Homo sapiens: one gene and its partners. The main gene of each other region encodes a partner of the protein of the gene in region 4 in a complex. Each region holds a gene or a part of one and is shown on either strand. Other genes may lie near its edges.

Region 1 (7,380 bases), on a different chromosome or scaffold from region 4:
TGCAATCATAAAACTGACTATACTGATTTGGATCTACTATAATTCAATCCACATTCCACAAGTCATGCAATAACTACATACACGTAAGTTCTAATAACAGGTTTTTTTGCTGTTGTTTTTGGTTTGTTTTTGTTTGGGTTTTTGTTTTTTTTTTTTTTTTAAAGAGTTTCGCTCTTGTTACCCATGCTGGAGTGCAACAGCGCGATCTCCGCTCACCGCAACTTCCGCCTCCCAGATTCAAGCGATTCTCCCGCCTCAGCCTCCTGAGTAGCTGGGATTACAGGCATGTGCCACCACGCTCGGCAAATTTTGTACTTTTAGTAGAGATGGGGTTTCTCCATGTTGGTCAGGCTTGTCTGGAACTCCTGACCTCAGGTGATCCACCCGCCTCGGCCTCCCAATTTGCTGGGATTACAGGCGTGAGCCACCACGCTCGGCTTCTAATAACAGTTTTTAAGCAGCTCTTCAAACATAAGAACTATGACAGATAGCATGTATTATGTAAATATACATAATGTGAACCTAAAATTCCATTTTATCTAAGTATTTCGATCTCCTACATCACTTTTTCTCAAACCATTACCAGTCAGAAGCCAAGCAGAATTTCACCTTATAGCCCTAATACCACTCATGCTAAGGTGGCAGCAATAATAGTAAAACTGTTGGGAGGCCGAGGTGGGCGGATCACCAGGTCAGGAGATGGAGACCATCCTGGATAACACGGTGAAACTCCGTGTCTAGTAAAAATACAAAAAATTAGCCGGGCGTGGTAGCACGCGCCTGTAGTCCCAGCTACTCAGGAGGCTGAGACAGGAGAATCGCTTGAACGTGGGAGGCGGAGGTTACGGTGAGCCGAGATCGCGCCACTGCACTCCAGCCTGGGCGACAGAGCGAGACTCCGTCTCAAGGGGGAAAAAAAAAAGTAAAACTGTCAAAAAACAGTAGCTGAAAGGAGGAAGCTGAGCAATCTACAAACATAACAGCCCCTAAATAAATGAGCTGGCTTTGAAAGTAAACAAAACAATGAACTGCTTTTATCAGTTTTGGGGGATTACCCTAATATCGATGAAGATGATGGTCTGGCTGGGTAACTTCCCATCTTGCCTTCCCCAAACTTGATGGCTATTTGTCAACTAGCTATCAAACTTGACAGCTATTTGTTAACTAGCACATACGAGGATTTGTAAAATGTTCATTATAGTTAAAAACGAAGATTTATCAAATAGCCTTCTCTGACAATTAATAAACCAATAAGCATTCTAAGCATAGGCTGGGGGGGCGGGGCATGTGTTAAACCAAAAGAAATATGAGACATAGTCCCTATATTTCAAAGGCCTCCCAATTCATTACAGTGCAAGAATAAACACACATGAATAAGTCAGAGACCAATTAATTGCTAACCTGAGTGGTACAGACTTTAAGTGCATGAGCTGTCCTGAGAAGTTTAAATATCTAAAGGTTGGAATAATATTACTTTTAATAGCTATCACTTGAGCACTTACTATAAGCCAAGTGCTTTACAGGCATTATTTAGTCTTCACAACAATCCTTTGAGTAGAGTACTTATTATTCCCAATTTACTCAAGGGGAAACAGTCCAAGTGGTTAAGGAACTTACCCAAGGTCACTCAGCTACTTAAGTGGCTAAGACAGCCGCTTATTTAGGGAATTCTAGAGCTCACACTGTTAAGACTTCATACAGCAGTGCGGGGGGTGCGGGGGAGGAAGCCACATAGGCTGGCACTATTACAAGCGCGGGATCCGGCAACGCGTTCCTCGTGTTTCGTTCCAAGTAACGAAGTTACAAAGATTTGAATCTTTAGCATGAGCCACGGTAAACTGGCTACTAGAAATGGAGAGGGGTGGGCAAGGACGACAAAAATGGCTAACGAGGGTTAATTTCATCCAGGGTTGAGCTTTAGCATCTAAAAGCGACCCAGAGAAGGAAATGAGATGTTATTAATATTTGTTCTTATATCTGAGGTTTGCTTTGCTGCTTAAACGACTCCTTCCAGGGGAAGGGGAGGAGGGAGCGCTCTAACGTGGGGGCGAGAAGACTAGGGGTATGGCAAATTACTGTTTTCGGTGTTACGGGGGAAAGTTTCACGACTAAAGGAAACGCGTTATCCTAGGTACTGGAGAAGCTTGGAGAGCTGCCAGAATTAGTTGCAGTCCCAGGATAAAATGGGGTTTAGGGAACATTTAATGACGAAAGTTGAATCCAACCCGAAATAGCTCTAAGGTGAAAAGACGGAGCAAAGAAATGTCGGTGGTTCTTCAGGGAAAGCGGCAATCCCTGCCACACTTCCCCACGGCGCTACGCGAGGCCGGGACAGTCGAGAGACCGCTCCCCGGGAGGGCGAGAGGTGCCAAACCGGGTTCTTCGCGGCGCCCCGGGCTTCGCGGCAGCGGGCGAAGAGGAGGGGAGGGGAATCCGGGACGGTTCGCCCTCCTTGGACTTCAGGCAGAGGAGGCGCCAAGCTCCAAACTGCGGAGTCCAACGGGTGCAGAGTGAAGAAATGGCACAGAGAGAGATGGAAAGTCCGAATTGCCCCGGCTCAGCCCCATAAAGATAAAGGAGCCAAGTGAGATCAAGCGAAGAGGGGGACACAAAAAGAGACCAAGAGGGAGCGCGGAGACCTGCAGGGGCGGAATAAGAGTTCTACTAAGAGGCTAAAGGAAGCCGAGCTACCGCAGGCAGTAGCGATTTCTGGGAGGCCAGGGAAGGAAGGAGGTCCGCGGCGGTAAACAGCACCTCTCCCCGAGTTCGAAACTCCTAGACGACCATCCACGCCCGCCGCCCGGGTGGGGGAGGGGGTACATCTTTCCCCCTCAACCTCCCACTACAGGTGAGAGTGCAGCTGACGCCCTGGCCCGGCCCGGCAGTGCGCCTGCCTCCGGCCCGAACACTCACAATTCGCCTCTCCCTGATTTCTCCCAGTTCTTTATCCACTCTGCGGGAACCACCACAGCCGCGGCCGCCATCTTCCTCTCACTAGTAGCAGAAGCCCGGATGTGTAGCACGCGAGCGAAGGGTCAAAGGGGAGCACCGCCCACGAGGAATGCCGGGAGCTGAGAGTTCGTTTTTCGATTTCCCGCCCCACTTTCCTCTCCACCCAGCGGAAACCCGAGGCAAGGCAGCCAACGACGTGGAGACTCGCGGGCCCCTTTGCGAGGTTACTACACGGGTTGCGCCCTCCGAAGTCTTCGGCCTTACTTCCCATTAGAACAGAGAAATGCCATCCACAGGCCAACAAGTAGACTTCATCTTCTTCCGTAATATCTACCCCTAACCACTAATACAAACACGCATTTTTCAAGCACCTAATATGTGCTAGACACTGGGAATAGAGAAATAATAGTCTTTGGGAAAGCCATAAATATAAGCAAATAAATTACATTACGCCCTGCTGACTGCTGAGATAAAAGAAAATAATCGGGTCCCTCTCCTTCTCCCTCTCCCTCTCCCGTCTCCCTCTCCCGTCTCCCTCTCCCCACGGTCTCCCTCTCCCTCTCTTTCCACAGTCTCCCTCTGATGCCGAGCCAAAGCTGGACTGTACTGCCATCTCGGCTCACTGCAACCTCCCTGCCTGATTCTCCTGCCTCAGCCTGCCGAGTGCCTGCGATTGCAGGTGCGCGCCGCCACGCCTGACTGTTTTTCGTATTTTTTTGGTGGAGACGGGGTTTCGCTGTGTTGGCCGGGCTGGTCTCCAGCTCCTAACCGCGAGTGATCCGCCAGCCTCGGCCTCCCGAGGTGCCGGGATTGCAGACGGAGTCTCGTTCACTCAGTGCTCAATGGTGCCCAGGCTGGGGTGCAGTGGCGTGATCTCGGCTCGCTGCAACCTCCACCTCCCAGCCGCCTGCCTTGGCCTCCCAAAGTGCCGAGATTGCAGCCTTTGCCCGGCCGCCACCCCGTCTGGGAAGTGAGGAGCCTCTCTGCCTGGCCGCCCATCGTCTGGGATGTGAGGAGCCCCTCTGCCTGGCTGCCCAGTCTGGAAAGTGAGGAGCGTCTCTGCCCGGCCGCCATCCTGTCTAGGAAGTGAGGAGCGTCTCTGCCCGGCTGCCCATCGTCTGGGATGAAGTGAGGAGCGTCTCTGCCTGGCCGCCCATCGTCTGAGATGTGGGGAGTGCCTCTGCCCCGCCGCCCCGTCTGGGATGTGAGGAGCGCCTCTGCCCGGCCGCGACCCCGTCTGGGAGGTGAAGAGCGTCTCTGCCCGGCCGCCCCGTCTGAGAAGTGAGGAGACCCTCCGCCCGGCAGCCGCCCCGTCTGAGAGGTGAAGAGCGTCTCCGCCCGGCCGGCCGCCCCGTCCGGGAGGGAGGTGGGGGGGTCGGCCCCCCGCCCGGCCGGCCGCCCCGTCCGGGAGGTGACGGGCGCCTCTGCCCGGCCGCCGCTACTGGGAAGTGAGGAGCCCCTCTGCCCGGCCACCACCCGGTCTGGGAGGTGTACCCAACAGCTCATTGAGAACGGGCCATGATGACAATGGCGGTTTTGTGGAATAGAAAAGGGGGAAAGGTGGGGAAAAGATTGAGAAATCGGATGGTTGCTGTGTCTGTGTAGAAAGAGGTAGACATGGGAGACTTTTCATTTTGTTCTGTACTAAGAAAAATTCTTCTGCCTTGGGATCCTGTTGATCTATGACCTTACCCCCAACCCTGCGCTCTCTGAAACATGTGCTGTGTCCACTCAGGGTTAAATGGATTAAGGGCGGTGCAAGATGGGCTTTGTTAAACAGATGCTTGAAGGCGGCAGGCTCGTTAAGAGTCATTACCACTCCCTAGTCTCAAGTACCCAGGGACACAAACACTGCAGAAGGCCGCAGGGTCCTCTGCCTAGGAAAACCAGAGATCTTTGTTCACTTGTTTATCTGCTGACCTTCCCTCCACTATTGTCCTATGACCCTGCCAAATCCCCCTCTGCGAGAAACACCCAAGAATGATCAATAAAAAAAAAAAAAAAAGTCAACAGAAAAAAAAAAAAAAAAAAGGAAGGAAAACTTTCCAGAAGAGAGATGTGTCTAGCACAAGAGAAGAGGAATAGTCCTGAGCCTGGAGGATTATTTTGCAGGAATCTCACAGGGCAGTTCCTAATGCAGGAGAATTAAAATAGGCTTTTCCTGGTGTATTTCTTGCAAACATTTTGGGCCAAGTGGCCTTCCCACACCCTCACATGAGCCTGCTTCCCTCCCACTCCTCTGTCATCAGGGCATTTCTGTTTAGGAACAGCAGGTCTAATATTGACTTAAATAAAGCAGACTTGACAGAAAAAAAAAAAAAAAGAAAGAAAGAAAATGTGGCACATATACACCATGGAATACTATGCAGCCATAAAAAATGATGAGTTCATGTCCTCTGTAGGGACATGGATGAAGCTGGAAACCATCATTCTCAGCAAACTATCACAAGGACAAAAAACCAAACACCTCATGTTCTCATTCATAGGTGGGAATTGAACAATGAGAACACTTGGACACAGGAAGGGGAACATCACACACCGGGGTCTGTTGTGGGGTGGGGGGCGATAGCATTAGGATATATACCTAATGTAAATGACGAGTTAATGGGTGCAACACACCAACATGGCCCATGTATACATATGTAACAAACCTGCACGTTGTGCACGTGTACCCTATAACTTAAAGTATAATAAAAAAATTAAAAAAAAAAAAAACACACGTTTGGCAGAAAATACAGACAATCCAAATGAAGAAATCCTACCCCACATATGAACTTTAGAGCTAGTATCTTCTAAATATGGCAAGTTTTGTCAAATGAACCAGGTTCATTTGCATTGAAAAACTATTTAAGTTATGTGCTGTATTCAGAACTGGTTCTGGGAAAATGCTCCATTGTTTATGATTGTTTTTCACCAGCTGTATCTAGTCTTCTAGTGTCCTGTCTCACTTTGAAATTCTAAAGCCACCCACTAGAAAATATCCACCTATTAACTTCAGTGATTTCTGCTTGTAAAAACCTTCTGCCGTTTTGAGGAGGATCAAATATAGAAGTGCCCTCTAATCTTTTCATGTTTCCTTATTATGGACAATTTAAAATGTATACAAAGCAAACAGAATGATACAGTGAATCTTCATGTACCATCATCCTTCCTGGAAAACTTTGAAGTCATTATTACAAGACGGCTTCTGTGATACAAGAAGCACTATCTTGCTACTTATGTATACTTCTCTGTGTAGTCTACAGCAAGGACTTTCAACCTGGGTCAGATAATTTTTTGTGGGGATAGGGGGGATGGGGGCCAGGGGGCAGGGGTCCTCTGCATTGTAGAATGTTTAGCAACATCTCTGGCCTTGACTCACTAGATGTCAGTAGCAGCCCCCATACACACACACACACACACACACACACACACACCCACACCAGTTATTACAACCGTTTCCAGACATTGCTAAATGTCTCCTGGAGGGCAAAACAGTCCCCTTTTGAGAACCACTGAGCTACAGTATTCTCCTGTACTGTGGCTTACCTTGCCACGTATCACAGTGATTTCTTCTTCCAAACATTGAACTGTGCAGTATGCATAGTAATCAGTATGTCACACTTGTGGTATGACCTGAGTGCAATGATGCCCTTTGAGGCCTGGTTTTCCCTTCTTCCAGAAACTGCAGAACTATTTTTACATGGTATGATGACTCCTTTAGGAATTACTCAGAGCTAATTGGCTTTTTGATCTATAAGATTGCAAAGCTATTAAATCTTCTGCATCCTTGTTGTTGGCTTGCCTGCTCTTTGCTATCAGCATCTGGTATTATCTCAGCAGCTGGGGGGATTTTTCCCTGGTGATCTCACAAGCTCATGGATACCAATGTGCTATTCAGGGACTGAGGTCTGTGGTGGAGGCCAGGGATTGGGTAGTTTCAATGTTGACAGTCTGATGCATGGAATGATAGGTTGATTTTAGGTTACTGTAAGGTCAAGCAATCTTATAACTTACCATCTCAGTGAAGACAAATAATGGGACCAAAAAGGAAGCACATAAAAGCAAAACAAGACAAAATAACAAAATAATTAAAGAATGAATGCAAAGGGTTTTTTGAGATTTAAAATGAAGAAAAGTTCTTTAGAATAAGCTACTTGATAACTTCTGCATTTTATGCTAAGGCTGTTTATGCCAAACCAATCTACTTGTCTCCTTCCTGTCTACAGTGCTCCTTTGGTAAAAACAAGATCTTTTCTTTTTCTTTTTCTTTTTCTTTTTCTTTTTCTTTTTCTTTTTCTTTTTCTTTTTCTTTTTCCTCCCACTTCAGCCTCCCAAACAGCTGGGACTAAAGGCACTCACCACCACACCCGGCTAATTTTTGTATTTTTTGTAGAGGCAGCCCAGACTGGTCTCAAACTCCTGAGCTAAAACGATCTGCCCACCTCG
Region 2 (7,019 bases), on a different chromosome or scaffold from region 4:
GGAGTTTTCCACTAAGCTCTAAACCAGAAGGCTCCCATGAGATTTAGTATTAACAGCAGCAACATCATTAAACTCTTTCCCAATCTGGGTCATGAGGTCACAAGACAAACATCAATAAATTTCAAAGGCAAGATTATCAATAAGAGCCAGTTAGTTAACTGATAATAATTCCATCTTGCTCTCTACCTTAAGCAAAAAAAGTCATCTCTGGTTCTCCACAGGCACCAAATGTGACATTGAATTTATTTGGTTTCAGAGCCAATGCCCAGCTCCAAGTCTCACCACCCTCTTAACTCTACTTCATCTTTGTATCTCTCTCTCTCTTCTATATTCTCATGTGACTCAAACCAGGATTTGGAGCTACAGGGTGGTATGTGGTGGTGATGGTGGTGGGACAGGGGCAGAGAAAGGCAAAACCCTAAACTGACCATTTTGGGGGGTATTTTCAACTATACAATTTAAATTTGCAAGAGCTTGGAGGAAGATGGCATATAATCTGGCTCTATAATATGCACTTGATTGATTCTTGGAAAAATCATGAGACTTTTGCACTACCAGCATGGTAATTTGAAAAATAAGCCAGTTTCAAATAACAAAACAAGACAAACAAAGAAGCCTGCCTATGACTTGAAGCTGTGCAGAAAGGTGGCTCTGAGTTTTTAAGGGAGGAAAGTAAGGGGGAGCTACTCTCTGAAGTTGGTAGCTGACTAACCTCTACCACCGATTCCGCCACGACCCATAGCTCCACGCCCTAGGCCCCCTCTCCCAGGACCTCCACGACCTCGAACACCACCTCTTCTTAAGCCCATTCGGGGAGCTACGGCTCGTCCACCTCGGAGCAGGTTTTGACCTTAGAGAGGAGGCATACAATGTATATGCAGGTAAATCCAAGAGACACAAAGTAGATTCTAACCAAAGGAAGGCGGTGAGGGTTAAATGAAGGTAATTCAGTTAGTTTTTAGGTTGGCTGGGGCAAGCTGCATACTGTGAACAGATTAAGCTACTCTTTATTCAATCAATTCAACAAGTCTGACCACAAATCCATTTTTGGAAGTTGGGAGTTAATTCAATTAGTAAGTACATACATTTAATAAATATCTACTGAATAATCAGATAGATGCCTAGCATTATGGTAAATTTAAAAATAAATGCTATGGTTCCTGATCTCAACAGATTCTTCTAGGGAACAAGAACTATACAGGGAACAGAGTAATAGTGCCCCAAATGAACATATATAGGTAAGTGCTGTGGGTCAACTTGTCCTCTTTTTCCAGCTGTATCAGTGTTTTACTAGCACCAGGAACAAAGAGATATAGGCCAAAAGACCTATAAATTTCTTATGTTTGACTTGTTTCTAGAACTTGAATGTGCTTTGATTCAAGCAACAGCAGGGTGTTTTAAAATGGAATGGAGATGACATGAATTACCTGTTGTTACGCAGGTCATAGCCTCTCACCATTGCACATTATCAGAAAAGGAATGGTATTGATAAAAGACATGCAGCACTATTAAAAATATGTGATTTCAGAAGTTATTATATTAATACAAATTCAGGCTTAAAGATGTTAAACAAACGTGTCCATAAGCAGCCCAAGAGAAAAGGGAAGGGAGTAGGGCCCGACAATTATCAGGGTACACAGCACTGACCTCGGAGTGACATCCCGCCCCTAAGTAGGGTTCTGGTGGCACGTCCCCCACGTAGTCCTCCTCTGGGCAAGCCTCTCTGGATTATGGGTAGGCCTCGTCCTCCGATTGCTCCCCTGGCCAGGGCCCCTATGGGTCGGCCTAACCGTGCCTGGATGTTACTCTTACCCAGGCGCTGCTTTAAGCTCTTCTGGAAGAAAAGGTGTTAGGGGATTGAGATCAAAAAAGCAATCCAACAGGATTTGGCAACTCAAAGTGCAGAGAAAAAGAAGCAAGTGAGATGCTGGTGTGAAGGGAGATAAACCTGTTGTGGGTGTCAAAAGGATCCCAAACCAGAAGCAAGCCTTTGCCTCAGAACATGTTATACAAGCAGCAGAATTTTGATCCAGAGCAGAAACTCCAAGAAGCTCAAGTGTGGTCCCATGAAATGGGCATCTCCACAAATTACCTCACTAGTTTGGCTACAGAAGTCATACACTGCCAGTTGAAACTTAAGTTTTCGTAAGAACATTCTATAGTTCAATCCTGGATTGTACTGCTTTTGAACTACAGGTTGACAATTATATGACTTGATTCATACCTGCCCATGGACTACCACTGTCTTCAAAGGCTTACTCAAACACCATAGGAAGTTCATCACACTCTGGGCAAAACTTAAATTACAAGTTCACTTGAGTTCTTGTGACTTAAGAACAAGATTGATTTCTCAAAAAGGCCCGTGTGCTCCATTTTTCCTCTGAGAATCTATTTCCAGACGGTCCACTTTTTACCTTAAGATGTAAATAAACACAAGAAAGTCAAATCTCCTTTCCTTACATTTCTTAAAAATCCCTAATTCCATGCCTGCACTTGCAAACAGCTCCTTTAAAACAATGATGACCTTAAATTAAAAATAAACATGTAACTCAAATGTATCTCCACAGTCAGCCAGCCAAACGTATGTTAGAATTATTCAGGTGATCACAAAACTCAGGGCCATATATAAGAACAAGGACACACTACAGAGATAGGGTATTTTTAAGAATCTGTTCTCAAAAGAAAACCATTAAGACTACATCTCAGAGAATTAAATTCCTTCAAAGGAAAAAGGGACAGCAATAGCCCTGAACACAACCAAGCTCCTAGTAAGCCTGGCTGTCCATAAAGCCATCAGTCAATCTGAAAGAAAATAAATTGTATAGCCCCTTCAGGCTTCACCCACAAGTGACTACCAACGTGTATGTGTGTGTTTTCTAATCAACCTCTCAAAAAGATGCTGTGAAGCATTATTAACTTTCTAGCACAAGATCATAAATTGCTTCTCATCAGTGGGGAAGGCTCCAAACATTATGCATCTAGCATAAGTAGGTGTAACCAACCGTAACGGCCTGTCCTGTTACTCCCGATTAACACACAATTATCAGGTTAGAACTGCATTCCACAAGTCTCTTGCGTTCAGTTATCCTGCATATATTAATTCTCCCAAGCTTTGTGCTTTAAAAGAACTGTACAGTGCTGGGAAGTTCTTTACCCATTCCAATCCTTAAGTGCCACCAATACCGGCCTTTAATATTAACAGGGAAGTTAAGGATGTCAACTATACCACTTAGTTTCCCTTCTAGAGGTGTGCTGTGTAAGGCAGCCTCTATAGCTACATGTGGCTATTTCAATTATTTTTATTTTGAGATACAGTCTCGCTCTGTTGCCCAGGCTGAAGTGCAGTGACACGATCTTGGCTCACTGCAACCTTCGTCTCCCAGGTTCAAACAATTCTCCTGCCTCAGCCTCCCGAGTAGCTGGGATTACAGGAGCTGTCATCACGCCTGGCTTATTTTTGGTGGAGACGGGGTCTTGTCATGTTGGCCAGGCTGGTCTTGAACTCCTGACCTCAGGTGATCCACCTGCCCAGGCCTCCCAAAGTGCTGGGATTACAAGTGTGAGCCACCATACCCAGCCTAAATTAAAAGCAAATTTTACTTATTTTCTTGAGACAGAGTCTCACTGTCACCCAAGCTGGAATGCAGTGGTGCCAACTCCACTCACCGCAACCTCCACTTCCTGGGTTCAAGAGATTCTCCTTAGCCTCTTGAGTAGCTGGGATTACAGGTATGCGCCACCATGCCCGGCTTTTTTTTTTTTTTAGTAGAGATGGGGTTTTGCCACATTGGCCAGGCTAGTCTCAAACTCCTGACCTCAAGTGATCCGCCTGCCTTGGCCTCCCAGAGTGCTGGGATTACAGGCCTGGCCTAAAATTAAATTAAAAAAAATTAAGCTCCTTAATTGCACTAGTCACATTTAAAGTTTTCAATAGCCACATGTGACTAGTGGCTACTGTACCGGAGAGCAAATACAGAACATTTCCATCATTGTAGAAAGTTCTGGCTGGGCACGGTAGCTCATGCCTGTAATCTGAACACTTTGGGATACTGAGGCAGGCAGATCACTTGAGGTCAGGAGTTCAAGACCAGTCTGGCCAACATGACAAAACTCCGTCTCTACTAAAAATACAAAAATTAGCCGGGTGTGGTGGCGGGCGCCTGTAGCTGAGACAGGAGAATCGCTTGAACCCGGGAGGCGGAGGCTGCAGTGAGTTGAGATTGCACCACTGCACTACAGCCTGGGTGACAGAGCAAGACTCCGTCTCAAAACAAACCAAACCAAACCAAACCAAAAACATAAAAAAATTCTATTTAATAGTACTACTCTGGATAGGGACTACTTCCTGCAGAGCCTATACTTAAAGCTTCTTGTTGAAAGGTCCTTTGGAATGATCTGTCAGAGATTCATCTTCAGCAACTTCCATTTACTCTTGGAAAATGGTGCCTTTTGCTGCTTTCCTGAGTCAGGGAGGAATCCAGTCACTCCAAGGCTTAAGGTAGCCGAAGCAGACACCCTTGTTTATTTTTGGTCAGTGAGCCCAATGGTTCAGGGTGGGGGTGTAAGGGTGTTATATTTAACTGCTGAATTTATGCATAGCCATGCAATGCTACCAAAGCCCTTACAGTTGCATGGCACTGCCCTCCAGACGCCCAGCCACAGCTTGGACATATCCTTCCACAGCCACTGTCCGGACTTGCATATAAATTCTATGAATAATAAAGAGCAGGTTTTATTTCAGGTCTGAATAGGATTATCTCTCACTGTAAATTTGAAAAAGAGAACCCCTAACTCAAATTACTCAGTATTCTTGCTCCACTTTACTGGTAAAACTTTAGGTGCTGTGGAAATGAGGGTCACTCTACTCTGTATATTTTAGCATTGAAAACCTTTGACTGCTGGGCGCGGTGGCTCAAGCCTGTAATCCCAGCACTTTGGGAGGCCGAGGCGGGTGGATCACGAGGTCAGGAGATCGAGACCATCCTGGCTAGTATGGTGAAACCCTGTCTCTATTAAATATACAAAAAAATTAGCTGGGTGTGGTGGCGGGCACCTTTAGTCCCAGCTGTTCGGGAGGCTGAGGCAGGAGAATGGTATGGACCCGGGAGGCGGAGCTTGCAGTGAGCCGAGATCGTGCCACTGCACTCCAGCCTGGGCGACAGAGCAAGACTCCGTCTAAAAAAAAAAAAAAAAAGAAAACCTTTGACTAAGGCCATGCAAACTCCCTGCACTATGGGAAAAAGAATAAAATTATTTCCCTGTTGGGTAAATCATTTAACAGAGAGTAAAGGATGCTGTGAGATTATCTAAAGCTGAAATAAAGTTTCTTTGTGGAATAAGCCATTAATCTATGTTAAGGGTTAAGGATCAGAAAACAAAAGATTAATACTCATTGGTAACAGAAACAGGCCACATAGATGGCAAACTCCCTAAAAGAGAAAGACAGTAAAAAGTTACTTATTGGTACCTGCCAAAATTGGAATTCTCTGAACTTCTCTTTCTTCCAGAGAAGTTTCAGCTTTTTGCCCTGAGCCACTTTGCAATCATCCATCACGTCCTGACAGCCTCAGTGGACTCCCTCACAGAGATCACCAGCTGCTTCTGGAGCATTAAGACCCATTCTCTCACCTGCTTAAGTTTTAATGCTGCCTGGACAGAGGGTCTATTCTCCATCTGCTGGGCCAGTCTTCTGTTTCTGGCACTGGCTAGCTGCTGTTGTTGCTGCATCGAAGCCCGAATATTCACTGGCGTCGGCTGTTTGTTCTTCAGCATATTAGTAAAGCTTCAAGGTCGAACAAAATGGATGTTTAAATAAAAGCTTTATTACAAACATTTATTGGCATTTTCATGGCTTGCTAGACCAGGAGCTCCAGATCCCACGAACTTTTAAGTAAAGTGGTACACTTAGATCAAGGCTGATGTGGGTTAAAGACTCCTCTGTTTCCACAAACTTGCAAGAATCAGAAACTTAGAAATGCAGCTAAGTGCAGCACATTCAACCAAAAGTGATAACGAGGGCTCAGGTAACGGCTTTTAGAGAGGTGGAAGGTATGAAAAACACGCAATAAGCAGATATGACAAGAGACAGAAGATATAGTTTCAAAGACAAATGAAGAAAGCCTAAACCTTGGGGGATCCGAGGTGCATTCTAAGGCCAAATATGAGGAAGGATTAGAGCACCTTCAAAGCTCACAGCAATGAACATACTCTCATAAATTACAGGAGTGTATCACATTTTAAAATATATGTCACTAACATGCAAACATAAATATTATGCAAACATAAATAATTAGCTTATCATAGCCAAAGAGATAAGGAGAGAAGCACATATGCCTCAGAAGAGGCAAAAATAGACATTAAGTAAATTTCAGTGGTCGAAAGTCAACTTAATGAAATCACTGATCAAAGGCATTCTTTTTTTTGAAACGGAGCCTCACTCTGTCCTCTGTTGCCCTGGCTGGAGTGCAGTGGCAGGATCTTGGCTCACTGCAACCTTCGCCTCACGGGTTCAAGTGATTCTCCTACCTCAGCCTCCTGAGTAGCTGGGATTATAGGCACACGCCACCACGCCCAGCTAATTTTTCTATTTTTAGTAGAGACAGGGTTTCACCATGTTGGGCAGGCTGATCTCAAACTCCTGACCTCGTGATCCGCCCGCCTCAGCCTGCCAAAGTGCTGGGATTACAGGCATGAGCCACCGCGCCTAAACAAAGGCACTCTTAATGAACAAAGTTGTCAGAGATAGAAACTGCCTTTGAATATCTTTACTTTTCTTAGTCTCCAATCATCACTTTTTCTGACTCCAAGTAGTTACTTTTCAAAGTTACATCAGTTTGATCATTTATGAGCCTGTGAAGAGACTCATTATTTCTGTCAAGGAAGTATAATGGAATGGAAGAGAAGAACACTTAACTGTAGAAGAATCCAAAACAAAACCAAACTAAAAGCAGAATGGAAAGAAAGTGAAATGGAGCAAAGCGAGTGCCTCTTACAAGGCCCAAGAATGACATTCAAGGGCC
Region 3 (7,667 bases), on a different chromosome or scaffold from region 4:
ACAAAAATTAGCCAGGCATGGTGGCACGTGCCTGTAATCCCAGCTACTCGGGAAGCTGAGGCACGGGAATTGCTTGAACCTGGAAGGCGGAGGTTGCAGCGAGCCGAGATCTTGCCACTGCACTCCAACCTGGGCGACAGAGCGAGACTCCATCTCAATTTAAAAAAAAAAAAAAAAGAATGACTGCATTTCTACAAAATCCTCAGAAATTTGCTGTTGATATGACATTACATATCAACTCAGATACATACTATGTTTCCTTCCTGCTTCAAAAGGTATTCCCTTCCCCTGAGGTTCCATACCAAAGCCCAAAATTCTCTTTATGACAATGGAGAGATTTTTTTATTTTCTTTTTTTTGAGACAAGGTCTCCCTTTGTCACCCAGGCTGAAGTGCAGTGGAGCAATTATCACACAGCTGACCACAGCCTTGGCCTCCCAGGCTCAAGCAATCCTCCCACTTCAGCCTCCTGAGGAGCTGGGACTACAGGTGTGTGCCACCATGCCCAGCTAATTTTTTAATTTTTTTTGTAGAGACAGGGTCTCACTATGTTACCTAAGCTGGTCTCAAACTCCTGGCCTCCGCCTCCCAAAGAGTTGGGATTACAGGTGTGGGTCACTGCACCCAGCCAAGATTTTTTTTTAAGGCAATAAAACCCCAAGTCAACCCAGAAGTCAGGATCATTGCATCAAGATCACCAGTGGAACCAAACATTAATTGTCCTAAAAATCAGAATCAAAGGCATGAGTTCTTTTTTTCTTTTTGAGACGGAGTCTCACTGTCCCCCAGGCTGGAGTGCAGTACACCATCTCGGCTCACTGCAACCTCCAACCCGGGCTCAAGCGATTCTTGTGCCTCAGCCTCCTCACAGCCTCCTCAATAGCTGGGACTACAGGCACTTGCCACCACACCTGGCTAATTTTTGCATTTTTGGTAGAGGCGGGGTTTCGCCATGTTGCCCAGGCTGGTCTCGAACTCCTGGCCTCAAGCAATCCGCCCGCCTAGGCCTCCCAAAGTGCTAGGATTACAGACGTGAGCCACCACGCCCAGCTAAAGGCATGAGTTCTTAACCAGAGGTCCATGGACTCCTCGGGGCTACAAGGTAGTTTTATGAAGCCCCTCAAACTGCATGCAAAATATGTGTACATGCCTTTTTCTGGGGAGAGGGTCCATACCTTTCATCAGAGTTTCAAAGATATCTGTGACCTCCAAAAGGTTAAGAAGTGCTCTAGAGAAAAAGCAAAGACAAGCAAATGTGATTAAAGAGCAAGTCCTTTTTAGGCTGTCAGGAGTGCCTAATGTTCTCTTAGACTGTAACACTGAAATCAGGTCAGAGGACTTTACGTAAAAGTTACTTATCCAATCAAATACAAATTTTATATAGACCTGACAAATACAGATTTGATGGAAGGAGGAACTCCATAAACCAACACAATCTATAAATGCAAGTAAGTCATCGGGCAGCTGGTGACTTACTCCAGGGATTTCAAAAATAGGACAAATAGGAAGAAAATATTAGCTCTTCTATATATAGTTCCTTTTTATCTCATTCAAAAATTCCTTTTCTGTGTTATATTTTATAACAGTCCAGAAGTATACAATTTCTATAAGTACAGTATATATAAACAAAGTGGAGATGATTGCTCAATTTTTTTTAACTCATCACAATAAAGATCAAGAGACCGCTGATATAGTCTATGCATTTCAGTATCATCAAGTTAACAATAACTCCAGAATAACACAAAAACCCACTAACAGAGTTTAGAATCCAAGAGTAAGAAAAACATCAGTTTCACAGAAAGACTAATTGGGGTCAACTAATAAGTGACTAAAGAAGGGTCCTCTCCCTACCCTTACTACCCTTAAGCTTTCTTAACAGCAACAAAAACAAAAAAAAACTTTTCGAGCTTTAAAGGATCACTTTTCAGTTTCAGCTATATCAGCCTGGTTTGTCCAAAACATCTAATGGGAAAACTACTTGTGAAACCACAAACAGACAATTACTCAAGATATCTTAATTTACCCTAAAAGAAAATACTTTTTAAAATGTTCTTCTTTTTAATATATTTTTTTAACTTTTTTATATATCTAAGTGTGAAAAAACTACCAAGAGTCTCATAAGACAATTTAAAATAGCTTCTGTGATTCAGTGTCAGCCAATGGTAACACCAGGAGATGCAGGGCCCACCCGAGATATGAAATGGAACAGAGATAATCTTAACCTTGGAATTGTTTTTCCCAAATATTGCAGGTGTGAGTTCTCTCTGGTGGTTGGAGATGGTGTGTGAGGAAGGCTGGCGGGCCGAGAGCCGCGTGACAGAACTCGAAAACTTTTAAATCTGAGGTGTCTGTACTTCTACTATTCTCAAGACCTCCTCAACCCCAGGCTTCTAAGGCGAGACCGATCTTCTGAGAGGCCTCTCCCTGTTTCAAAATTCGGCTTGGGGCGTAATCCCACCTAGAAAAGGGGAGTGGAAGTATTTTCTGAGTGTCTGGTACCTATTTAGACAGAAATACACAAAAATGCCACCATTTGCTAACAGGGAAATCTCAGCTTCGGACGACAGACTGGAAACATCATCCCAGGGAAGAAAAACGGATCCTGGCTCCGACATGGGGCAAAAAGGAGGGACCAACTGACGTAATGCAGCCCTGAAAAGCAACGAAGAGTATAACAGGTAGAAGGCACTTACACAACCCAGTGGGGAAGGGTGACGGACGATACAATGATGAAGGAAGCAGAAATAACAAATAAATATAGCAGTAAAGCCGTGAGGAGAAATGGGAAATTAGGGAAGGCGTAGTGTGGAAGGGTGGCACAAAAGAGCTACGGCGGGAGCCGAGAAACGAAGTGGAAAAGGCTGCACGGAGAAGACGTAGGAGAAGGCGCAAGCTACCCTGTAGAATTCAGTTCCTAGAAAAGTCCAACTCAGCCCTTCCCCGATTCACGGTACCTTTAGCTTATGGAGCTCCACCGTCTCGGTCGCCATCTTGTTACCCCTCACTCCACTAGGCCCCCACCCGCGGCCTCCGCCTCCAGGAGCTCCCGCCTTAGGCGTAGAGATGCAAGGCTGACCAATCGTTGTCACTCTTGCTCCCACGCCATACCATCAGCTCTTCCCATTGGTCAATAGCTGACGTCGCTCTCACTTCTCTAGGCAGCTTGCCCCACCTCTTTCAAAAGGTGGAACTGGGAGAGGGGCGGGCACTGTATCTTGCGAACGACAGAAATGGCAACCAACTGTGCTTCTGCATTACAGACCACCAACCAATGGGTGGTGGCAGCGCTGATTCTGTTCCTCCAATAGGAAAGGGGCAGAAGGAGAGGCGTTACTTCCTGGAGACTTCAGGTGTGGTAGCCGGCGCCGCGCCCATAGCCGGACGGGGATCTGAGCTGGCAGGTAGGAGCTGCAAAGACTGTAAGGGTTGCTGAGGAAAAATGGTGGGAGGCGAAAGGGGCGCCGAGGGAGTGGTGACCTAAATACTGAGAGGGGAGCGCTGAAGGGAGCCCTGAAAAAACCGATGAACATGAGGAGGAAGCTGGGAGGGGCATGGGGCGGGCTTAAGGAACTGGCGGTGGGGCTGGGGCGGGCAAGAGCCGCTTCCTAACCAGACATCATCAGCTTTAGAGCTACCACAATTTTAAAGATCCGAGTTCAGATAATCACTGCTGCCCCTGGAGTCAGAGCCAAGGCTCCACCTTTCGAGGTATTGAGCTCAGGTCCCTTCCTAACCCAGTCCAGAAGCCGTGGGCAAGTTGTTGTCGTGCCCCACGCTTGAGAGAAGTAATGGGGATGCAGACTGTTTACATGCCACGGAGGTGAGAGAGAGGGTGGACAAGCCCCAGAGAACAAAGTGGGGACCAGAGTGAGCTTTACTCTGTCATCCCTTCTTAGTGGTTCTTTGATGATTCCATGACTTTCGCCTGGAATTCTGGGTGTACGTGACCTCTTCATGGTTATTAACTTCTTCAGCAAAGTCAGATACTCCTATTTCCCTTGCTCCCTGAAGTGAGTGCCCCAAGCCTACACATACACCTTCATGTTACAGTTGACGTGTAAAGATCAGAGCAATAATGACTATGTCTCTGAAATGTAGTGAGGACTCTTCTTGTCTTTTAAAGTTTTCCCCAAGTCTTCAGTTTTTATTTTCTGCGTGATGGGTAAGTTCTTCATTCCCAATAGAGTTCAGGGGATTGGGGCTATCTGAGAGACAACTGGGAGATAGCTCAAGAGGGGTTGAGAAAAAACTGAGCTGGACTCCTGCCTGATCCCCCATTACGGCTAGGATGAATGTGGGGGTGGCACACAGCGAAGTAAACCCCAACACCCGAGTGATGAATAGCCGAGGCATCTGGCTGGCCTACATCATCTTGGTAGGATTGCTGCATATGGTTCTACTCAGCATCCCCTTCTTCAGCATTCCTGTTGTCTGGACCCTGACCAACGTCATCCATAACCTGGTGAGCACTAAACCACGCCCTTGTACCCACCCCAGGGTTTCCCAACCAAAAGCAAAATAAAATCACCAATTGTTTGGGGATTTATGTGTTCCTTTTGGGATCTTAACATAATTCTTTGACTGAAAAACTACTTTCTGCCCCTCACACTGCCACCTTCCCTGTTCCCAGGCTACGTATGTCTTCCTTCATACGGTGAAAGGGACACCCTTTGAGACTCCTGACCAAGGAAAGGCTCGGCTACTGACACACTGGGAGCAAATGGACTATGGGCTCCAGTTTACCTCTTCCCGCAAGTTCCTCAGCATCTCTCCTATTGTGCTGTGAGTCTATGGGGGAAATGAGATATGCTGGGTTAGAAAGAGCTCCAAGAGCCAGGTAGAAAGGCCCATAGGGAAGCTGTTAAAAAGCAGACTTCTCATCTAAAACCCTTTGAAGATATTATGGTATACTAGTTCTAAGCCTACAGAGAGCAGTAAAATGTAGATTACAGTCAATACTGTAATCAAGCATTCCTTGCTGCCTCCTTGGTAGTAAGGAAATGAAGGGACTGAGAAAAGATAAGTGCCAAATAAAACCAAATGATTTTACACTGCCAAAAGAAGTAAATAAAGGCAGAACTGATATTAATCTTCAAAAACACTGTAGGGAGTGGAAGCAAAGAGGACTGTAACAGTCATACAGACTGAAATAGCTTGAGCCGTCATTTGCCATGTCATTAACAATTAACAGATACTGACTTACAGTCTCCAGTTAAGGGTGCTATCTCCTGAACCCCAAAGTAAATGCTGTTGATATAGCTGGAATAGTTTTAGATAATCTAGAACTATATACAGTAAAACTGGTCATTTAAAATAGAAGAGAAAGAGCAGGGCACTGTGGTGCATGCCTGGAGTCCCAGCTACTTGGGAGGCTATGGCAGAAGGATTGTTTGAGCCCAGGAGTTTGAGGTTGTACTGCACGTATCACACTTATGAATAGCCACTGCACTCCAACCTGGGAAACATGGTGAGAACTGTCTCTTAAAAAAAAAAAAGAATATGGATAGAGAAGGTCAACCTCACTCACCCTATTTTTTTCTCTCCCCAGCTATCTCCTGGCCAGCTTCTATACCAAGTATGATGCTGCGCACTTCCTCATCAACACAGCCTCATTGCTAAGTGTACTGCTGCCGAAGTTGCCCCAGTTCCATGGGGTTCGTGTCTTTGGCATCAACAAATACTGAGGGATGGGTTTTGGGACAGCTCCATGGGCATGGGGAAGGCACTGAAACAGAGGACTATAAAACATCCTTCTCTTATTCTCCATACTGTCTTCTACACCTTTAAAGCCTGAGAACTATACAACCTTTCCCAGACTCCCAAGAAGAGAAGAGATTGGCAAATGGGGCTCCTGGGCCCAGTCCTGCTAGTGGCAAGTTTCTTTGAATCAGGAAGGCAGGTGAGGTAAGGGCCAAATCACTCTCCTCCATAGCAGGAAGCCATTTGGGCAGCTTCTTTGGTGATTACATCTTTCCATATCTTTTACACTTACCACCTTCCAGCTCTGTTTTGCTGTGTATTTTTCTTACAATAATTTTTTTCAGCTATAGCTGCAGTTTAATCAGGATGGGTAGAGAGCTGTCCTCATAAGGCTGGGGGTGGGAAGATGGAATACTGACCTAATGTATAAAACTTAAAACAATTCTCCAATCCCCTCTCCTTTGGTCCAGTAGGAGGTGCCCTTCACTCTAAGCTTAACACTTAGTAGGGAAGAGATTCTCAAATGAGAAAAAGGGCTCCGGCTATATGGGCAACAAAGAGGGAAGATACAGGTTGCCAGTTATACATTTATAGAAAGATAATCCCCTGGCTTTAAATAGTCATGTACATACAAATATGAACAAACTTAAAAAAAAAATACAAACCCTTGGATCACATGGGGGCTTCTGGGAACCCCCGTATTCTTCCCCCTCACCCAAGGGCAGTGGGCATGAATCTACTTTTTAAAAATGATTAATTTTGGCCATCCTTGCAGAAAAGAGCCTAAAATTGGGTGATTTACCCACAAAGTGAAAGTCGAGGGAAAATTCAGTTTCCAGTCTCTGAACTCTATGCGATAATCTCCTATCATTAGGGCTACATGCTTTCTTGTTCTCTTTTAAATATTATATCAGGATAAAGGAGAGGGCTCCCTCCTGAAATGGGTCAAGAAAGAAGATAGACTTGTAGCTTTAAAAGGGTGGGAAAAAGTGTCATCTGCCCTAAAAGCAAATGACAAGACAAAGGCATACAGACCCCAGGGAAATACCCAGTTCCCACACCTAAAGGGATACACTGTCCAGCCCAGGTCCAGGCCCTAGGTTCTTTACTCTAGCTACCCCCTATTTCTTTGGTATTGTCAAAAGACAAGATTCAGGCCGGGCACAGTGGCTTATGCCTGTAATCCAGCACTTTGGGAGGCCAAGACGGGTGGATCACCTGAGCTCAGGAGTTCGAGACCAGCCTGGGCAACATGGTGAAACCCCGTCTCTACTAAAAATACAAAAAAGAATTAGCTGGGCCAGGTGTGGTGGTGTGTGCCTGTAATCCCAGCTACTCAGGAGGCTGAGATGGGAGAATTGCTTGAACCCGGGAGACAGAGGTTGCAGTAAGCTGAGATCACACCACTGCACTCCAGCTGGGCAACAGAGCAAGACTCCATCTCAAAAAATAAAAAGAAAAAGATTCAGTTCCTAGGTGTTGGGGGAGGAGGGATAAATCAAACTCCATCCTGTGCTACAGCCCTTTTGACTCCCTGACATTGATTTGAGGAAAGAGAAGGGGCATCAACGTTGGAAGGGCCTCCTCACTTTCTTCCGCCGCTTAGGTTTGGCTTCTCCCTTGGGTACTGTGCTGTTGGGCTTAGAGGCTGCAGCGGCTCCAGGGGCAGGCTGAGGAGCTGCAAAGAAGTTCCCATTGGGCATCTGCCCTGGGGGTACTTGAAAGATCCGACTCAAGAAATCCTGAAGATCAGCAGGAGGGGCATCTGGGGTGGCTCTGAGGTAAAACAGAAGAAATAAGGCAAGAGATGTTAGAGTCATATGGTTACCTAAGTTAGATATACTTATCAGTTCCCAAACTTCCTAGAAAACAAGGCCCCTGGGTGTCCTAAAAAGCAGGTCATCTGAAACCGTATTCAAAACTGAAATAGTGGATAGATTATTGACAGAAATACCACCTACCTCTGCC
Region 4 (7,868 bases):
CAGGAGGCATTCCACTGGGGAAGGTGATGAAGATGACCTGGGACTGTGGCTTCAGATGATGCATAGGTGATCTTAAATAATGCTGAACACCTAAGGAGAAAGTTAATCCCTTTTCAATTCTTATTTTGAAACTTCTGATTGCTTCAAGGAGAACATCTCAGTTCCCTAGTTTGTCTTTAACATCTATGAATGCCAATGTTCCTTTGTAACAAAAGAACTCTATCCCACAGCCTTAAACAACAAAATCTAGCCAGAGTTTGTTAACAATGATCTAGTTGCATTATATTAACTATATTAATTTTTACCTTCTACATAAAACAAGTGAAAGCAGCTTTCCATTTCTGGTGGAGAGATTTCAAGTTTTCTCTCAAAGTAAATTTGAGTTTAAAAAGTGACTTGGCTGGGCGCAGTGGCTCAGGCCTGTAATCCCAGCACTTTGGGAGGCTGAGGCGGGTGGATCACCTGAGGTCAGGAGTTTGAGACCAGCCTGGCCAACATGGTGAAACCCCGTCAGTACCACAAATACAAAAATTAGCCGGGAGTGGAGGCGGGCGCCTGTAATCTCAGCTACTCAGGAGGCTGAGGTAGGAGAATCACTTGAACCCAGGGAGCAGAGGTTGCAATGAGCCGAGATCGCAGCCACTTCACTCCAGCCTGGGCAACAGAGCGAGATTCAGTCTCAACAACAACAAAAAAAGTGACTGGGCCCAACACCATGGCTCACACCTGTAATCCCAACACTTTGGGAAACCAAGGCAAGCAGAGGTGAGAGAATCGCTTGAGCCCAGGCGTTCAAGACCAGAGTGGGCAACAGAGCGAGACCCCATCTTTAGAAAACATTTTAAAATTAGCCTAGTATGGCGGTGCACACCTGTGGTCCCAAGCTACTCTGGAGGCTAGGGTGGGAGGATGGCTTGAGCCCAGAAGTTCCAGGCTGCAGTGAGCTATGATCGCGCCACTGCACTCAGTCTTGACAACAGAGATCCCGTTGCAAAAAAAAAATTTGGACTGGATTAAAAATTTTTAGTAAACCCCTCCCCCTCCCCCCTCCCCCTCTCTCCACGGTCTCCCTCTGATGCCGAGCCGAAGCTGGACTGTACTGCGGCCATCTCGGCTCACTGGAACCTCTCTGCCTGATTCTCCTGCCTCAGCCTGCCGAGTGCCTGCAATTGCAGGCGCGCGCCGCCACGCCTGACTGGTTTTCGTATTTTTTGGTGGAGACGGGGTTTCGCTGTGTTGGCCAGGCTGGTCTCCAGCTCCTGACCGCGAGTGATCGGCCAGCCTCGGCCTCCCGAGGTGCCAGGATTGCAGACGGAGTCTCGTTCACTCAGTGCTCAATGGTGCCCAGGCTGGAGTGCAGTGGCGTGATCTCGGCTCGCTACAACCTCCACCTCCCAGCCGCCTGCCTTGGCCTCCCAAAGTGCCAAGATTGCAGCCTCTGCCCGGCCGCCACCCCGTCTGGGAAGTGAGGAGCGTCTCTGCCCGGCTGCCCATCATCTGGGATGTGAGGAGCCCCTCTGCCCGGCTGCCCAGTCTGGGAAGTGAGGAGCACCTCTTCCCGGACCCCATCCCGTCTAGGAAGTGAGGAGTGTCTCTGCCCGGCCGCCCATCATCTCAGATGTGGGGAGCACCTCTGCCCCGCCGCCCCGTCTGGGATGTGAGGAGCACCTCTGCCCGGCTGCGACCCCGTCTGGGAGGTGAGGAGCGTCTCTGCCCGGCTGCCCCGTCTGAGAGGTGAGGAGCCCCTCCACCCAGCAGCCGCCCCGTCCGGGAGGTGGGGGGCAGCCCCCGCCCGGCCAGCCGCCCCGTCCGGGGGGGAGGTGGGGGCCAGCCCCAGCCCGGCCAGCCGCCCCGTCGGGTCGGGGGTAGGGGGGCGCCTCCGCCTGGCCGCCACCCCGTCCGGGAGGTGGGGGGCGCCTCTGCCCGGCCGCCCCTTCTGGGAGGTGAGGAGCCCCTCTGCCTGGCCGCCACCCCGTCTGGGAGGTGTACCCAACAGCTCATTGAGAACGGGCCATGATGACGATGGCGGTTTTGTCTAGTAGAGAGGGGGGAAATGTGGGGAAAAGATAGAGAAATCGGATTGTTGCTGTGTCTGTGTGGAGAGAGGTGGACAAGGGAGACTCCATTTTGTTCTGTACTGAGAGAAATTCTTCTGCCTTGGGATGCTGTTGGTCTATAGCCTTACCCCCAACCCCGTGCTCTCTGAAACATGTGCTGTGTCCACTCAGGGTTAAATGGATTAAGGGCGGGGCAAGATGTGCTTTGTTAAACAGAAGCTTGAAGGCAGCATGCTCCTTAAGAGTCATCACCACTCCCTAATCTCAAGTACCCAGGGACACAAACACTGCGGAAGGCTGCAGGGTCCTCTGCCTAGGAAAACCAGAGACCTTTGTTCACTTGTTTATCTGCTGACCTTCCCTCCACTATTGTCCTATGACCCTGCCAAATCCCCTCTGCGAGAAACACCCAAGAATTATCAATAAATACTAAAACAAACAAACAAACAAATTTTTAATAAACGGTAGTAGAGGTGGTAAGTTGATCTGGCAAAGCCTACAAAGACCGGACCTGAAAGGCTTAAGTGTGGGAAATCCTGACTTTGGCAACACAGTAGAGTGCCTGGCACACCGAAGAGCACGATATATGTGAGCTGTTACCATCACCACCACCCCCACCCCCATCAGGCTACATTACCACAATCAAGAGGCTCCAACGTGAAGCCTGAGGATGCTGCAGCGAACACTTTTCGGATGAGGTAACAGCGCAGCGCCGAGAGGCCGGGGACCGCGGGTAGTGAGGGAGGAGAAGCCGGGTCAGACCCCAGCCCAGGGGCGCCCTTTGGGCGATCAGCACCTCAGTCCCGGAGCGCCCAGCCCCGCCCCATCTCCCAGCCCCACTGCCCTTGTCCCCTCCTCACCTCACAGCTCCAAGAACCTGGCACCGGGAGTAAGCCACTGCCGGAGGCGGAGCAAAGCTTGCCCGCGCACCATAGAGAACCGGAAGTAAGGAAGGGGCGGCCGACCGGAAGCGAGGCGTAGAGGCCGGAAGCTCAGCGCGGAGGCCCCCGAGGGAGGTGGTGGCGTGGTGAGACTGTAAAAACAAAGACACATGCTTCTCGTTCACTGTGCCCAGGGCCTAAGAGAGTGTCCAGCAGCTAGTGGGCGCTCCACCGAGTAGTTGAATTAATGTTGTGTTATGTCCAAGATAACACGAAAGAACCTGGTAGCGCGGCGGGGAAGATTTCGGCGCTAGAGGATTTGCCTGCATAACCTTACTTCTTAATTATTATTTTTACCATAATATGCCACGCCAGTGAAGGCAACAAGTCAGGGAGGGCATTAACCTCATTTTACACTTGGCTTTTTGAGGAGTGCATCACCAGTTTCTCCATTTTAGGCCTGACTTGCCCAGGACAGAGTCACAACTCTAACGCAGTATTTGAAAGCTTCAGGTATTTCCTACCCCTGGCATGAACTGTACAAACAAGGCCCAGGATTTTTTCGTGTAAATCCTCATCTGGAGCTAGTAACACGTGTCCTGAATCCCTGGTTGTACGGGGCCAGTTCCTTCTCCTTCCCAGGAGCAAGGAGGAAAATACTGGCTCTTTTTTATTTTTATTTTTATTTGAGACAGAGTTTTGCTCTCTCACCCAGGCTGAAGTGCAGTGGCGCAATCCCCGCTCACTGCAAACTCCGACTCCAGGGTTTAAAGGATTCTCCTGCCTCAGCCTCCTAAGTAGCTGGGATTACAGGCATGCACCACCATGCCCAGCTAATTTTTGTATTTTTAGTAGAGACAGGGTTTCACCATGTTGCCCAGGCTGGTCTTGAACTCCTGACCTCACTCAAGTGATCTGCCCACCTCGGACTTCCAAAATGCTGGGATTACAGGCGTGAGCCACTGCACCCAACCAGTACTGACTGTTGAGAATAGCTCAAGAACACAGTACCCTCCAGGAGGGTAGATCTGCCATGTGGGACTAAGCCCACCAGCTCTACTGTGCCCTGCCTCAGGCACCTGCTAAAGTTCCTTGCAGATGAAGAAAAGACACTGATTTATAGTAAATATTTAATTGTTTCCATCAGCAATTCCAGCACAAGTTTTCCTGGATGGTAGGCAGAATCAAGCTACCCAAGGGTTCATGATGAGGTATGGGGGTCACTGAGGAGACCCCCAGAGTCACTGACCCCTCCCGCCACCTCCACACACCAGGTGGCCCTGCAGAATGAGGGTTGGGCTGATAGAATGTCAATTAGGGGAGACAGGATACAGGGTGAGGGAACAGGGTCTAGCTTGTATATTTGCCTGCAGGAAGGAGGGAGGGCAGGAGAGACTCTGCATAGAAGGACTGGAACTACACATTTAAGTTTTCAACCCCAATATGCAGGGGGAAACAGCCAAGCCACTCTCCATCTGTCTAGTATTAGGAACCTCTCTTCAAGTGGTCTTTTGTCATCTCTGTTCTTCTTCCCAATTCTGTATTCCAGATTCCAAATTCTACAATTGAAACCCAAGTTCTGAATTCTAAGTTCTACCTTCCGAGTTCCTGTTACGTGTCTGTCTCCTGCCCCTAAATCTTTCCTGGCTCCCATCCCTTTCCCCAGCCCCTCTGGGCAGAATGTCTGAACCTCCTCCTGACCGTGGTGACGAGGTTTGTTTGTATTTGTTTTTTTGTTTTGGCAGTTCCAGGCTTTTCTCCAGCAGGAGGGACTTGGCTCAGACTGTCCAGCAAGTGGGTGGCCCAGTGGAAACCAGGGAATTCCTGAGGGCCTGGCCTGGCCTCCTCTCTTCCCACCCCACCTCTAGCCACTGGACATACTACCTTTTGTGCAACTAAGCTAAACAGAGGATTTCCAAGGGTGATAACTGGGGACTGGTGGCCTTGAGATGAGGAATTTTAGAAGATAAATGAAGGCCTAAAAGATCACTATCTTTCATTCAGGGAAATCAGAAACTACTTCTAGCAGGGGGAGGGAGGCAGGCAGGGAAAGTAGAAAGGGCCTGGGCAGAGCTGTAATCCTCAGAACTTGTCAGCCTTCAGTTCCCCCTTGTCTGAACTGAGCACTGCCCCTCAGAGTCCTCCCAGAGCCAAGACAAAACCAAGACAGCAGGACCAGGAGTGCCACTGTCTGTCGGGGTTGCCTGAGGGAGAAGGGGAAGGAGGTGGAGGTGTAGGCAGCATCACTGCAGAGGCGAGATCTTCAAGGGGATCATGATCCTAGACTCCATGTGTCGCACCAGGGGGACTGCGGAGAGAGAAGGCAGAGGTCACACAGGGGGCTCAAGCAAGCCAACAACCTCCCCTGGCCCCACCCACACATGCTGGCCTTTGAGTGGGCAGGAGGAGGCCCCAGATGCTGCGACAGGAATGTCCCATTGCCCTCGTGGAAGGGCCCATGAAGAGCACCAGATCCCTCAAATTATGGGATAAGACAGGACTTTGGTGGTGATGAGAATAACATTTTCTTAAATTTTAATAGTTATCTGTTGGCCAGGCATGGTGGCTTGTGCCTATAATCCCAGCACTTAGAGAGGCCAAGACAGGCGGATCACCTGAGGTCAGGAGTTCGAGACTAGCCTGACCAACATGGAGAAACCCTCTCTCTACTAAAAATACAAAATTAGCCGGGCGTAGTGGCACATGCTTGTAATCCTAGCTACTCGGGAGGCTGAGGCAGGAGAATCGCTTGAACCCGGGAGTCAGAGGTTGCTGTGAGCCGAGATCAGGCCATTGCACTCCAGCCTGGGCAACAAGAGCAAAACTCCGTCTCAAAAAAAAAGAAAAGAAAAACACTGATTTAGACCAACTGCCTCGTTTTACAGATAGAGAGGGTGCAGCCTAGAGAAGGTCAGCTCCAGGTCATCCAGGAGGTTAGACTCTTTCCTCCAGCTCAGAGCTTTTCAAACTTTAATGTGCATACAAATCACTTGGCAGTTCTTGTTAATGTGCAGATTCTGATTTGGTAGGTTGCAGGAAGCCTGCGATTTGTTATTCTTGTTTGTTTCTTTGTTTGAGATGGAATTTCACTCTTGTTGCCCAGGCTGGAGTGCAATGGCACTATCTCGGCTCACTGCAACCTCTGCCTTCCGGTTTCAAGCGATTCTCCTGCCTCAGCCTCCCGAGTAGCTGGGATTACAGGCATGTGCCACTATGCCTGGCTAATTTTGTATTTTTAGTAGAGACAGGGTTTCTCCATGTTGGTCAGGCTGGTCTTGAACTCCTGACCTCAGGTGATCTGCCCACCTCAGCCTCCCAAAGTGCTGGGATGACAGGCGTGAGCCACTGCGCCCAGCCGAGATTTGTCATTCTTAACAAGCTCCCAGGGGATGCCAATACTGTCAGTTGGGACCACACTTGATTTTTTTTGTTTTTTGTTTTTTTTGAGACAGGGTCTCACTCTGTCTTCCAGGCTGGAGTGCAGTGGCAGGTTCTCGGCTCAATGCAACCTCCGCCTCCTGGGTTCAAGTGATTCTTGTGCCTCAGCCTCCCGAGTAGCTGGGATTACAGGCTTGAGTTACCATGCCTGGCTAATTTTTTTTATTTTTAGTAGAGACGAGGTTTCACCATGTTGCCGAGACTGGTCTCCAACTCCTGGCCTCAATTGATCCACATACCTCAACTTCATAGTGCTGGGATTACAGGTGTAAGCCACTGTGCTTGTCTTGTTTTTTATTATTTTTATTTTTTATTTTTGAGATAGGGTCTCACTGTTGCCCAGGCTGGAGTGCAATGGCACAATCATGGCTCCCTGCAGCCTCAAACTCCTGGGATCAAGTGATCCTCCCACCTCAGCCTTCCAAGTAGCTGGGACTACAGATGGGAAACACCACGTCCTGCTAATTTTTAAAAAATGTTTTGTAGAGATGGGGTCTCCCTATGTTGCCCAGGCTGGTCTTAAACTACTGACCTCAAGTGATCCTCTTGCCTTGGCCTCCCAAAGTACTAGGATTTCAGTTGTGAGCCACCATACCCAGCTGGGACCACACTGAATAGCAAGGCTCCTGCTAACTCCTTCAGCAGACACATTCTCCCTCATACCACCTGGTAAGTGATCACTGTAAACTTCTCAATGGCAAGGACAGGCTCTTGTTCATTTATGTGCCCCTCAACCACCTACCTACCACAGTTCCCGGCACACAGTGAGGGCTTAATTAACACCCACTGACTCTAGGTGGTTTCAGGTTCCTAGCAAAGTGGCAAACACCTTGAGCAAAAAACTTGTTCAAGGCTGGGCACAGTAGCTCATGCCTATGATCCCAGCACTTTGGAAGGCTGAGGTGGGAGGACTGCTTGAGCCCAGGAGTTTGAGACCTGCCTGGGTGACATAGTAAGACTGCATCTCTACAAAAACAAAAACCTTATTCAAAAACATTTCCTGCATGCTTCCTTTGTGACAGACACTGGAGAAAGCACTTTTCATAAATGAGTTTGTGGGCCAGATGTGGTGGCTCATGCCTGTAATCACAGCACTTTGGGAGGCCGAGGCAGGCGGATCACCTGAGGTCAGGAGTTCGAGACCAGCTTGGCCAACATGATAAAACCCCGTCTCTACTAAAAATACAAAATTAGCTGGACATGGTGACACACGCCTGTAATCCCAGCTACTCGGGAGGCTGAGGCAGGAGAATGGCTTGAACCTGGGAGGCGGAGGCTACAGTGAGCCAAGATCATGCCACTGCACTCCACCCTGGGTGACAGAGTGAGACTGTGTCTCAAAAATAAATAAAATAAAATAAAATATAAAATAATAAAATAGTTTGTAGAATCTTCCGTTATAGCCCTCTGACAGAAGCACTATCACCATCACTATCTTACAGACGAGGGAACAGCCTCAGCGAGGTAAAGAACCGTGCCCAAGGTCACAATG

Evidence for each region.
Region 1: THOC5 (region 4) and THOC2 share a complex: the UniProt entries of both Homo sapiens proteins name them as parts of the transcription/export (TREX) complex.
Region 2: THOC5 (region 4) and CHTOP share a complex: the UniProt entries of both Homo sapiens proteins name them as parts of the transcription/export (TREX) complex.
Region 3: THOC5 (region 4) and SARNP share a complex: the UniProt entries of both Homo sapiens proteins name them as parts of the transcription/export (TREX) complex.

Annotation. Positions count from the first base shown.
Region 1 is NC_000023.11:123,730,039-123,737,418, forward strand, and holds the start of THOC2 (THO complex subunit 2), read right to left. Parts: upstream 3,015-7,380; 5' UTR 2,985-3,014; coding exon 2,914-2,984; intron 1-2,913. UniProt on the Homo sapiens protein: Component of the THO subcomplex of the TREX complex which is thought to couple mRNA transcription, processing and nuclear export, and which specifically associates with spliced mRNA and not with unspliced pre-mRNA.
Region 2 is NC_000001.11:153,637,058-153,644,076, reverse strand, and holds part of CHTOP (chromatin target of PRMT1 protein), read right to left. Parts: intron 5,783-7,019; coding exon 5,629-5,782; intron 1,835-5,628; coding exon of another isoform or gene 1,832-1,834; coding exon 1,648-1,831; intron 851-1,647; coding exon 713-850; intron 1-712. UniProt on the Homo sapiens protein: Plays an important role in the ligand-dependent activation of estrogen receptor target genes. May play a role in the silencing of fetal globin genes.
Region 3 is NC_000012.12:55,814,713-55,822,379, forward strand, and holds the start of SARNP (SAP domain-containing ribonucleoprotein), read right to left. Parts: upstream 3,013-7,667; 5' UTR 2,990-3,012; coding exon 2,954-2,989; intron 1-2,953. Other genes in the region: ORMDL2 (ORM1-like protein 2), read left to right, coding at 4,288-4,461, 4,630-4,781, 5,548-5,683; DNAJC14 (dnaJ homolog subfamily C member 14), read right to left, coding at 7,265-7,475, 7,661-7,667. UniProt on the Homo sapiens protein: Binds both single-stranded and double-stranded DNA with higher affinity for the single-stranded form. Specifically binds to scaffold/matrix attachment region DNA. Also binds single-stranded RNA. Enhances RNA unwinding activity of DDX39A.
Region 4 is NC_000022.11:29,550,754-29,558,621, forward strand, and holds the start of THOC5 (THO complex subunit 5), read right to left. Parts: upstream 3,005-7,868; 5' UTR 2,918-3,004; intron 2,903-2,917; exon of another isoform or gene 2,695-2,902; intron 91-2,694; exon of another isoform or gene 1-90. Other genes in the region: NIPSNAP1 (protein NipSnap homolog 1), read right to left, coding at 5,182-5,246. UniProt on the Homo sapiens protein: Component of the THO subcomplex of the TREX complex which is thought to couple mRNA transcription, processing and nuclear export, and which specifically associates with spliced mRNA and not with unspliced pre-mRNA.